Regions from separate parts of the Homo sapiens genome. Here region 1 is linked to region 2. Evidence: fine-mapped expression QTL. A gene starts in region 2. The other region holds a variant in brackets. All regions are shown on one strand. Distances are between the middles of the regions. Region 1 overlaps RNF4 (ring finger protein 4). Region 2 holds the start of RNF4 (ring finger protein 4).

The links. PIP is the estimated chance that this variant, and not a neighbour inherited with it, causes the effect. A credible set is the group of variants that fine-mapping cannot tell apart.
Region 1: its variant is the best candidate, but not a certain one, in a credible set for the expression of RNF4 in whole blood (TOPMed, PIP 0.89).

Annotation. Positions count from the first base shown.
Region 1 is chr4:2,499,067-2,504,436 of GRCh38, forward strand. RNF4 (ring finger protein 4) reads left to right here. Exons shown (of 8, transcript NM_002938.5): 4 at 1,593-1,672. Among named protein-coding and RNA genes, the nearest start is that of RNF4, 33 kb to the left of the region's middle. The variant T/C (reference allele first, on the strand shown) is at 2,794.
Region 2 is chr4:2,466,951-2,472,320 of GRCh38, forward strand. RNF4 (ring finger protein 4) reads left to right here and starts at 2,156. Exons shown (of 8, transcript NM_002938.5): 1 at 2,156-2,308. It overlaps LOC107986250 (a long non-coding RNA gene), which reads right to left and starts at 2,001. Exons shown (of 2, transcript XR_001741551.3): 1 at 1,450-2,001. RefSeq lists a silencer at 1,699-1,868 and enhancers at 2,019-2,378, 2,062-2,634, 2,679-2,798.

The DNA of each region.
Region 1 (5,370 bases), 32 kb after region 2:
GGCGCCTGTAATCCCAGCTACTTGGGAGGTTGATGCAGGAGAATCACTTGCACCTGGGAGGCAGAGGTTGCAGTGAGCCGAGATCGTGCCACTGCACTCCTGCCTGGACGACAGAGCGAGACTCTGTCTCAAAAAAAAAAAGTTAAATGCATTACAAGACACTTTCCCCAAATATTAGACCAATACTGTTTCTTAAAAAACTTCATTTAGTGTTTTGTTGTTGTTGTTGTTTGTTTGTTTTTGAGATGGAGTTTTGCTCTTGTTGCCCAGGCTGGGGTGCAGTGGCGTGATCTTTGCATCCCGGGGTTCAAGCAATTCTCCTGCCTCAGCCTCCCGAGTAGCTGGGATTACAGGCATGTGCCACCACACCTCGCTAATTTTGTATTTTTAGTAGAAACGGAGTTTCTCCATGTTGGTCAGGCTGGTCTCGAACTCTCAACCTCAGGTGATCCGCCCACCTCAGCCTCCCAAAGTGCTGGGATTACAGGTGTGAACCACTGTGCCTGGCCCATTCCGTGCTTTTTAATATTAATATTAATAGTAATCAGAAATAAAAATGGTTGTGCGTCATTTTTTACTTTATATAAATGGAAGTTGTACGTTAACTGTTTGGTCCATGTCCTTCTCACCTTTATCCTGTGCACATGTAGACATCACAGTATACCCTAAGGGCTGAAAGGCAAGCTTCACAACAGATGCAACCCATTTTGTATGTTGAGGTTCTAGCTATCAGTATATATCACTGTTATTCTCCATCCAACTAGGGAGACAAACTTGAGAGATAAATGGAAATTAAAAGTTTGTCCTTGGCCGGGCACGGTGGCTCACGCCTGTAATCCCAACACTTTGGAAGACTGAAGTGGGTGGATCACAAGGTCAGGAGTTCAAGACCAGCCTGGCCAAGATGGTGAAACCCCATCTCTACTAAAAATACAAACAAAATTAGCCAGGCATGCTGCCAGGCGCCTGTAATCCCAACTACTCGGGAGGCTGAGACAGAGAATTGCTTGAACCCAGGAGGCGGAGGTTGCAGTGAGCCAAGATCGCACCACTGCACTCCAGCCTTGGCGACAGAGCGAGACTCTGTCTCAAAAAAAAAAAAAAAAAAAAAGAATTTGCCCTAGATTAACCGATGAAGTTACTAAGCTAAGCCTGACTTTTGGTCCTTGGGCCAAGTGAGAGTGGTCAGCTTCACCTGCTGGGAGGAGCAGAGGTTTCAGGCTAGTCCATCCCAAAGAGAAAGGCCTGGGGCTGGGCATGCATGGTGCGTTCTCCCAGATGGGGCACAGAGGCATAGCCGTGTGGAAGTGGGATGCCGTGGAATAGAGGTATGCACATGCGCACACATACATAACCCCCCAGGTACATTTGTAAAAACCATACCTCCCCACTCAGAGCAGAATTCTGGAAGGGTGGTTACTGGCTTTCCCTCCTGAGGGAGGTGTTGGTCCTGGTGCTCTTTGCAGTGTATACTTCAGGATTGTTTTAGTTTGGGGTAAGCCTATAACATTAGCAGTCATACTAAAGTGTAGAGGGATACAACCTTACTTTCCTCTTAATCTTAATGCTTGTTGAAATACTTTCTTTTGAAGCTGGAGATGAAATTGTGGACCTCACTTGTGAATCTTTAGAGCCTGTGGTGGTTGATCTGACTCACAATGACTCTGTTGTGGTAAGTGTTGGAGTGTGAGAGTCGGCTGTTTCTTGGGTATGGGTCCCTGGCCAGTGCCAGCATCTGACAGCCTTGGTCACAGACTCCAAGTCAAGGTTACAGCTTATGCTAAAGAAGTTCATGCATCTTGTGGAATTGAGCTTTTAGAAAGAAAATAAACAGTAACAATAATAATAACAAAGAAGTTCATGCATTCAGTGACGAGAGCCCAAAATGAAAAATGTTTCTGGAAAATCATTTGTTATAGCCTTGTCGCCTATGGAGTAGGTCTGTGTAACCTGACCTTGCCACACCTGGGCACAAAAGTGGTTTGGGGAGAATCTCAAGACCCCCACATCTGTCTTCAGTCCCTGATTCCACAGTTTACACCAGCTGTGTGACCTTGGGCATGTGACTTAGCCTCATTCACTTTCCATGAAATGGGGACAGGTCACTCATGTCAGCAGGGCATGGTGTAAGACATCTTACAACAGATGCCGTGTTTGAGTGCCTGACACCTAGAATGGTGCCCAGTCACTGTGAGTGTATGCCCTCCCAACTGAAAGGAAAGGGAACGTTGGCTCAGCACTGCCCATGGGAAATCTCTCAAGTTCCAAAAGTGCCTGCTACTTAGCATGGCCTCAGGGGATGCAGGCTCCCTGCATTGCCACCTGATGCCTGCTGCGTCCTGATGCCAGGGAGGCTGGAGCCCAGGAGGCTGCCTGTGTCCCTGTCTCATGGCACCGGTTACAGACTGCAGGGGACGTGTGTATACGTGTCCTGCCTGCCAGGAGGGAGGCCTTGTCTGGTCAGAGGACACACGGAGAAGCTATTTCTGATAGACCTGTTTCATGGTGCATGCAGGTCTGGGAATCTGGTCAGCATCTTAAGGGCAAGTTTGCCTCTGGAAGATGCCACTTGAGTGTTTTCTGACAGTGTGCTCGGAACACAGGTCGGGGTGGGGGCACACTTGGCAGCATTGGCAGTGGGGTGGTAAGTGCTGCTGAGGAGGACTGTGGGGTGTGGGGGCTGCTAGTAGCTGAGTCTTCGCCTTGGCCCTGGGCTCACTGGTGTTGGGGTTATCCTGTTTGGCTGATGCCTGGGTATCTGAATAGGGACACCCCATAGGTGTTGCTTCTTAG[T/C]TGTGCTGAGAACTTCAGAATAGGGTTATACTGAGAAGTTTCAAGACTTCAATGCAAAGAAAAGGACAGGGATGGAAAACCATCTGAGATAAGCAGCAGTGGGTTTAGTTGTACGTGGTCCCTGCTTAGGTCTCATTAACGTGTTTTCTGAGGTACATACACACATATGACTTTGCTTATCATCCCTGTGTCCTGCATGGAGTTCTGGAAAGATAACTAATTTGGTATATTAGCTGGCAGCTACAGCACAGTCACTGATTTTTCCCCTCTTTCTTTTTCCCAGCTGACACCTTGGTTTCACCAGTTGCTCATTAAAGCTGGAAAGTGGTGTCTGCAGAAGTTTTTTTGTTTTTTGTTTTTTGTTTTTCTTGAATACTCAGTGTTCACCACAGTCTTCTTGGCCTTCTCTCTGCCAGACCCTGAGGAGAGAGCTAGGATTTTGACTGCAGGAAGACAATGATTGATTGGCTTTTGTTGGCTGACAAACCAACATCATTTCCCCTTTCACACTTGTGTTTTCTTTTGCTTTAGAAACAGGGTCTCAGGCTGGGCGCGGTGGCTCACGCCTGTAATCTCAGCACTTTGGGAGGCCGAGGTGGGCGGACCACAAGGTCAGGAGTTTGACATCAGCCTGGCCAACATGGTGAAACCCTGTCTCTACTAAAAATACAAAAATTATGCGGACGCCTGTAGTCCCAGCTATTCAGGAGGCTAAGGCAGGAGAATCGCTTGAACCCAGGAATCAGAGGTTGCAGTGAGCCGAGATCACGTCACTGCACTCCAGCCCGGGCAACAGAGTGAGACTCCATCTCAAAAAAAAAAAAAAATACAAAAATTAGCCAGGTGTGATGATGCATACCTGTAATCCCAGCTACTCGGGAGGCTAAGGCAGGAGAATTACTTGAACCCAGGAGGCGGAGGTTGCAGTGAGCCAAGATCGCGCCACTGCACTCAAGCCTGGGCGACAGAGCAAGACTCTGTCTCAAAAAAAAAAAAAAAGAAAAGAAAAGAAACAGGGTCTCACTCTGTTGCCCAGGCTAGAGAGCAGTGGCATGATCACACCTTACTGCAGCCTCCAACCCCTGAGCTTAAGTGATTCTCCCACATTATCCTCCTGAGTAGCTGAGACTACAGGTGCATGCCACCATACACTACTAAATTTGGGTCGGGTGGTGGTGGTGATTTTTTAATATTTTTGTAGAGACAGGGTCTCACTGTGATGCCCAGGCTGGTCTTGAACTCCTGGGCTCAAGCAGTCACCCACCTCAGCCTCCCAAAGCACTAGGATTACAGGTGTGAGCCACCACACTGGCCAGCTTTGTTTTGTTTTGATGACTAAGCTGCTCTTGCTAAAAGGGCTTCCTCTCTGAACTTCCCTACCTTTCTTCTGTTTCCCTGGGCTAGGGCTCCATGTTGGCAGTCCTACTCCCAATTAACCTGGGGCTGTCTGGTTAACCTTTATAAGATCTGCAGTCATTGGGAGACCCGGGGACCAGGAATATTGGTGTTGAGGGAGCTACCCTGGAAAGTGGATGGGTGGCCAGAGGGAGAGCTGATAGGTAAAAGGGAGACGCTCCTGGCTTGGGAAGCAGGAGTCCTAGGTTCTGGTCTCTCAGATCTACTGGTCAGTTTGATCAGTGGATTTATCTCACACTGTCCTCAGTGTTGTCAGCCACAAAATAACTGCTTTGGACTTGATAGCTCTTGCTAATCATTCTCTACTTATTTTTGATTTTAATAAGTCCAAGTGCCAGTTTATGAATTTACACTGAGACATATACTTGAGTTTGGAATTCTGCCTCTGAGCAGATCTGTTTGGGAGGCCTCTAATGCTAGTCACTGAGGATAAGGGGCATCTGTAGATGGATCGTGTGTTCAGGGTGACCCTAGGCTGCACCTGCAGGAGAGTATAAAATGGATAAATGTATTCATTCTGGAAGCGGGGTAACCTTCCTTACCAGTTCCGCCAGGACCTGTCGAATAGTTTGAGTGCACTGCTTTAGCTCCAGTAGCTCTGTACCTGTAATATAGGAATCCCTGGATACCAGGATCCAGAGGTAGCCGTCAGAACATCAGGGAACCCTCTAAACTTTGTGCCTGTGGTCCCAGCTACTGGGAAGGCTGAGCAAGGAGGATCACTTGAACTCAGGAGTTCAAGGCAAGCCTGGGCAACATAGTGAGACCCTGTCTTCTTCAAAAAAGAAAAAAAGACTGGAAACTTTGCATACAGGTGTGCACATTCTTCCAACTTTCGAAGGAATTCAAAGCCCCTGAAAAATGAAGGGAAATGAAAAATGCGGTAAGATGCAGTGAGAGACTTTGTTCATCTCATTTGATTAGTTTCCCTCAAAATGAACTTTCATTTTTGGCATTGCATAGCCTAGAAAAGGCATCACTGCTGTGTCCCGAGGTGTGAGTGTCTTTGATTTTTACTGGATAAATGCCAGACTTTTCTAAAGAGGGAGCAGTTCACATTCATGCCAGTGTTTGAGGTTCTCCACATCCTCATGGCCACTTTTAATTTTAGCCATTCTGATGCTTGTCCAGTGGTGTCTCATTGTGGTTTTAATTTGTGCT
Region 2 (5,370 bases):
AGATATATTAAATGTCTTCATTTCTTTTAAACTTTTAAGTTCTCTTTGCTCCAATTATAATCACAAACTTCGGAAAATGTTATACCTTTCAACTTACAGTCGCTATCAAAAATCAAATACTTAGGGCAGGGTGTGATGGCTCATGCCTGTAATCTCAACACTTTGGGAGGTCGAGGTGAGCAGATAACTTGAGCCCGGGGCTTCAAGACAAGACTGGGCAACATGGCGAAAGCCAGTGTCTACAAAAAAAAAATACAAAAAAATTAGCCAGGCATGGTGGCACACACCTGTGGTCCCAGCTACTCAGGAGGCCAAGGTGGGTTGATCATCTAAACCTGGGGAGGTCGAGGCTGCAGTGAGTGAGTCATGATTGTGCCACTGCACTCCAGCCTGGCTGACAGAGTGACACCTCGTCTCAAAAAAAAAAAAAAAAAAAAAGACTGGGTGCGGTGGCCCACGCCTGTAATCCCAGCACTTTGGGAGGCCGAGGCGGGTGGATCACGAGGTCAGGAGATCAAGACCATCCTGGCTAACACGGTGAAACCCCGTCTCTACTAAAAAATACAAAAAAAAAAAAATTAGCCAGGCGTGGTGGCGGGCGCCTGTAGTCCCAGCTACTTGGGAGGCTGAGGCAGGAGAATGGCGTGAACCCGGGATGCGGAGCTTGCAGTGAGCCGAGATCGCGCCACTGCACTCCAGCCTGGGCGACAGAGCGAGACTCCGTCTCAAAACAAACAAACAAACAAACAAAAAACACAAATACTTAGATATTTTACATGAGAATTACATTTATCTATCAGATACTCTACCATGCCAGATTTCCTTACAATTACGAAAAATAGCAAACACATATTGTTTGTAAATGCAACACAAAAACGTTAATGCTCTGGTTTCTATCTGCCTTGTCATTCCGTTATTTGACTCCATTTTCGAGGTTAGAAACTCACTGTAAGGTGGCCGGGCGAGGTGGCTCACACCAGTAATCCCAGCACTTTTGGAGGCCAAGGAGGGTGGATCACCTGAGGTCAGGAGCTCGAGACCAGCCTGGCCAACATGATGGAACTCCATCTCTACTAAAAATACAAAGAAAATTAGCCGGGCGTGGTGGCAGGCGCCTGTAATCCCAGCTATTCGGGAGGCTGAGGCAGGAGAATCACGTGAACCCAGGAGGTTAGAGCTTGCAGTGAGCCGAGATCGCGCCACTAAAACAAACAAACTCACTGTAAGGAAACAATGTAACCCAAGGCATTTGGGGTGACCTTCACGTTGCCTGAGGGTGCCGAGGGACCAGAGATGCTGGCCATGGACTAAGGTCTGGGTATTCTCAGGCAGCAGGGACAAGGTGGGCTTTTTTCCTGGTTGCTAAACCCACGTCAAAGTCGAGCTCAGGGACTGGAGCTCAAGAAACCCACCGCCCATTCTCCAGTCCGACCGGGGACCTGCATGCACCTCTGCCGTGCTGCCCTGAGTCCTCCAATCCTCCACACTCTTCCTCTGTTATGTACACGTCTCCACCCAGGCCTGCAAAAGTCCCAGCTTCCTCGCAGGGGCAGGGACCCGCACGCCGGCCCAGGGCTTGGCACGCGGGGATGCTGAAACAGGGCCAGGCCTGGTTTCCAGCCGATCGTCAGAGTCCCAAGGCCCAGCAACCTTCCTCACAAAGGCCTCGTTAAGAGGCGAGGAAACAAGAGCCGGGAGAGGGGCGCGGAACGGCGGGCGGGACGAACGACCAGCTCCGCGCCTCCGGCCAGCTGCGTCGAGCCAGGGGCACCGCGGCTGTTGTGCGGCTGGAAATCTAGGAATGGGAAGGTTCGGGGCCTGCTCGGCTCCGGAGGCAGCTGGCGGGTCGTCCCTGGCGGCGTTGGAGCGGTCAGTGGCAGCCGGGCACGGGCGACCGGGTCGCCCGGGTCGCCCTCAGACCGTGACTCCCGAAAAACCTTGCGGGCGGGGCGCGCCCGCGCCGTCTCTTGCCGGAAGGTGCGAGTTAGTGCGCTCGATTGTGGGCGGGGGCGGAAAGAGGCGCGTTTTAAAGTGGTAACAGATGGTTTTCTTATCCAATAGGATTAAAAAATTTGTCCTTACCCGGCCGACCGCGGAAGTAGAGTAGGCGGGCGGCCAATGGGGACATGATGGGGGGCGGAGCCGAGGCCTCCGAAGCGGAAGTGGGTTGCTGTTGAGGCGGCGGCATCTTTCTCGAGGAGCTCTCCTGGGCGGCTGAAGAAGGAGCTTCTTCTCCGGAGTGCGCCGGCGGTGGCGCCTGCGGACCTAACTAGCTCCAGGTTAGGCCGAGCTTTGCGGGAAAGCAGCGGTAAGTCAGGGCCTTGCAGATGCGAGGTTTAGGCAGCTTCGCGGCCTACAGAGGCCTCGGCCCGCGCCTCTTGGGGGAGCCGCGCTGCGCGGCTTGACCCAGCCGAGGCTTTGCAGCCCGGGACCTCGAGCCAGCTCTGGTCGCTCGCACTGCCGTCCGCGCGGGCGCACCGAGCCCGGCTTGGCGCGGGCAACAGAAGTTAGGAGGTCTGCGTCTGGGTCTCGGCTCACCCTGGGGGGCCGCGGCCATGGGGCTTAGTTCCTAGCCTAGGAAGGGAAACTGAGACTCTGGGAGGGGCAGGAACGCCCCCAAGGTCACTTGGAAAGTCGGGCAGGATGTGCTGTTAGGGGGAAGACCCGGGCAGGGTTTTTGTTCCCCGCTGACGACGCCTCCTTTGTGTGTTCGCGCCGCCGCCCCGCCATCGTGGGGCCTGCGAGTTTGCCGGGGTGCGTGGGCCGCGTGGCGGGGCCTTTTGTAGGTCGGGAGGATCTGAGTACGGGTGCGGGCCTGACCGTGGGGGCGCCGAGGTCGCAGTCTAAAACTTAGTAGGGCCTCGATTTCCGGGCGCGCTTCCGGGCCCCGGCTGGTGGTTGGTGGAACGTGCGACTGTGAGGCTTGCGGCCCAGCCCTGCACCGCTCGGGCCCTTCACCGCTCTGGCGCGCCTATAGACAGGTGTATGAAGATTCTCACGACCCGAAACAGAGTTGCTAGTAAACACCGCTTTTCCGCCTTTGATCCATCGAGGGAAGAGGGAAAAGGATAGAGCTTGGGCAAGCCGTTTTGGTAGGGATTTCAGCTTTTGTCTTTCACTTGTCAGTTCCCATAGACGTTCACAAACTTAATAATCTTCGTTCTGTTTCTGCACCAAGTTCTTGAGCCAGACGTAGGGTCTCAGCTCTGGAGCCTGGCTTAGACTGTCCAACTGACTGGGGAGACTGAGGTCCAGAAAAGTGAAGTGGTCTGCCCAAGGTCACATAGCCAGCTATTTGGCAGCAGATGAGGTTAAGTCCTACCTGCAAGATTTGGGTTTTGAATTCATTGACCAGGAGTTTTGGGACCACTGTCAATAAAAGAGACATTGAAGGGAATCTTTTGTTACTTTCTTGGTGATTTGCTTTTTAATGGACAAGGACATATTGGGTTCAGTTTTATCTGTGAGTTTGAGGTGAAATAGAGGCATTCGAGTAGCAAGATATATTGCTGGCTTTTGTATTGCCTGAATTTGAGCTTCCAAAAATCTTACTTTAACACATCGTTTATTGATCTTTTCTTGAATTACTACCTTTGTAAGGACCTTTTGTAAACATTGTTTTTCTAATCTTCATGAAATCTTAATGCCATACGTAAACTATTTCTTTTTATATAATGTATGCACATCTGTGCTTTGTACATAAAATGAGTAAGATTTTTCACTCTCCTCAAGATCAAAGTAGCGTATTTTTGAGGTCTCCTGTATGCCAACCTTTCTGCTTGGAATACAGCAGTAAACAGTCGTGGTCCTCCTGTAGCTGGGTGAGGATGGAGGGAATAAGAGATAACTCATTTTATTGTGTTTTGCAAATACTGCCTTTTTTTTTTTGCAAGGTGAAGGTTTATAGCAAGGATTCATCGAGCAAGTCTGTAAATGCCAGCCATTTTTCCAACAGCATGTGCTCACTTTGTGTCTCTTGTGTCACGTTTGGGTAATTCACAATATTTCACACTTTTTTTTTTTTTTTTTTTTTGAGGTGGAATCTCACTCTGTCACCCAGGATGCAGTGCACTGGCGTGTTCTCGGTCTCACTGTAACCTCTGCCATCTGGGCTCAAGTGATTCTCCTGCCTCAGCCTCCGGAGTAGCTGGGATTACAGGCATGTACTACCACACCCAGTTAATTTTTGTATTTTTAGTGGAGACGGGGTTTCACCATATTGGCCAGGCTGGTCTCGAACGCCTGACCTCAAGTGATCCGCCTGCCTCGGCCTCCCAAAGTGCTGGGATTACAGGCATGAGCCACCATGCCCAGCCCCAAACCTTTTCATTGTTACATCTGTTATAGTGACCTGTGATCAATGTTTTGGGTTACCATGAATAGCACTCATATAAGACAGTGAACTTAATTGGTAAAAGTTGGGTGTGTACTAACAGCTCCACTGACTGGCAGTTCCCAGTCTCTCTCCTCAGGCCTCTCAATTCCTTGAGACACAATATTGAAATTAGGCCAGTCAGTGACCCTACAGTGTCCAGGCAAAAGGAGCAGTCAGTTGAATCTCTCTTACTTTAAGTGAAGTTAAGAAATGTTTATCCTTAGTGAGAAAGGCGTATCAAAAGTTGAGATAGGCCAAAAGCTAGGCCTCTTGTGCTGAATGACAGTTAGCCAAGTTGTGAATGCAGAGGAAGAGTTCTTGAAATTAAAATGCTACTCCAATGAATACATGAATGATAAGCCAAACAGCCTTATTGCTGATAGGGAGAAAGTTTTAGTGGTCTGGATAGAAGATCAAACCATCCATGACATTCCCTTAAGCGAAAGCCTAATCCGGAGCAAGGTACTAACTCTCTTCAATTCTGTGAAGAGTGAGGAAGCTGCAGAAGAAAAGTTTGAAACTGGCAGAGGTTAGTTCATGAGGTTTAAGGGAAGAAGCCACCTCTGTAATGTAAAAGTGTAAGGTGAGGCAGTAAGTGTTGATGAAGAAGCTGCAGCAAGTTATGCAGAACATATAGCTAAAATAATTGATGAAGGTGGCCACACTAAACAACAGACTTTCAATGTAAATGAAACAGCCTTATATGGAAAAAAAAATACTATCTAGGACTTTCATAGCTAGAGAAAGGTCAATGCCTGGCTTCAAAGGACAGTCTGATTCTCTTGTTAGGGGCTAGTGTGGCCAGTGACTTAAGTTGTAACTAGTGCTCATTTACCATTCTGAAAATCCTAGGGCCCTTAAGAAGTATGCAAAAATCTACTGTGTGCTGATCATTGAAACAGGAAAGCCTGTATAGTAGCATATCTGTTTACAGTATGTTTTACTGAATATTTTAAGCCCACTATTGAGATCTACAGCTCAGAAAAAAAGATTTC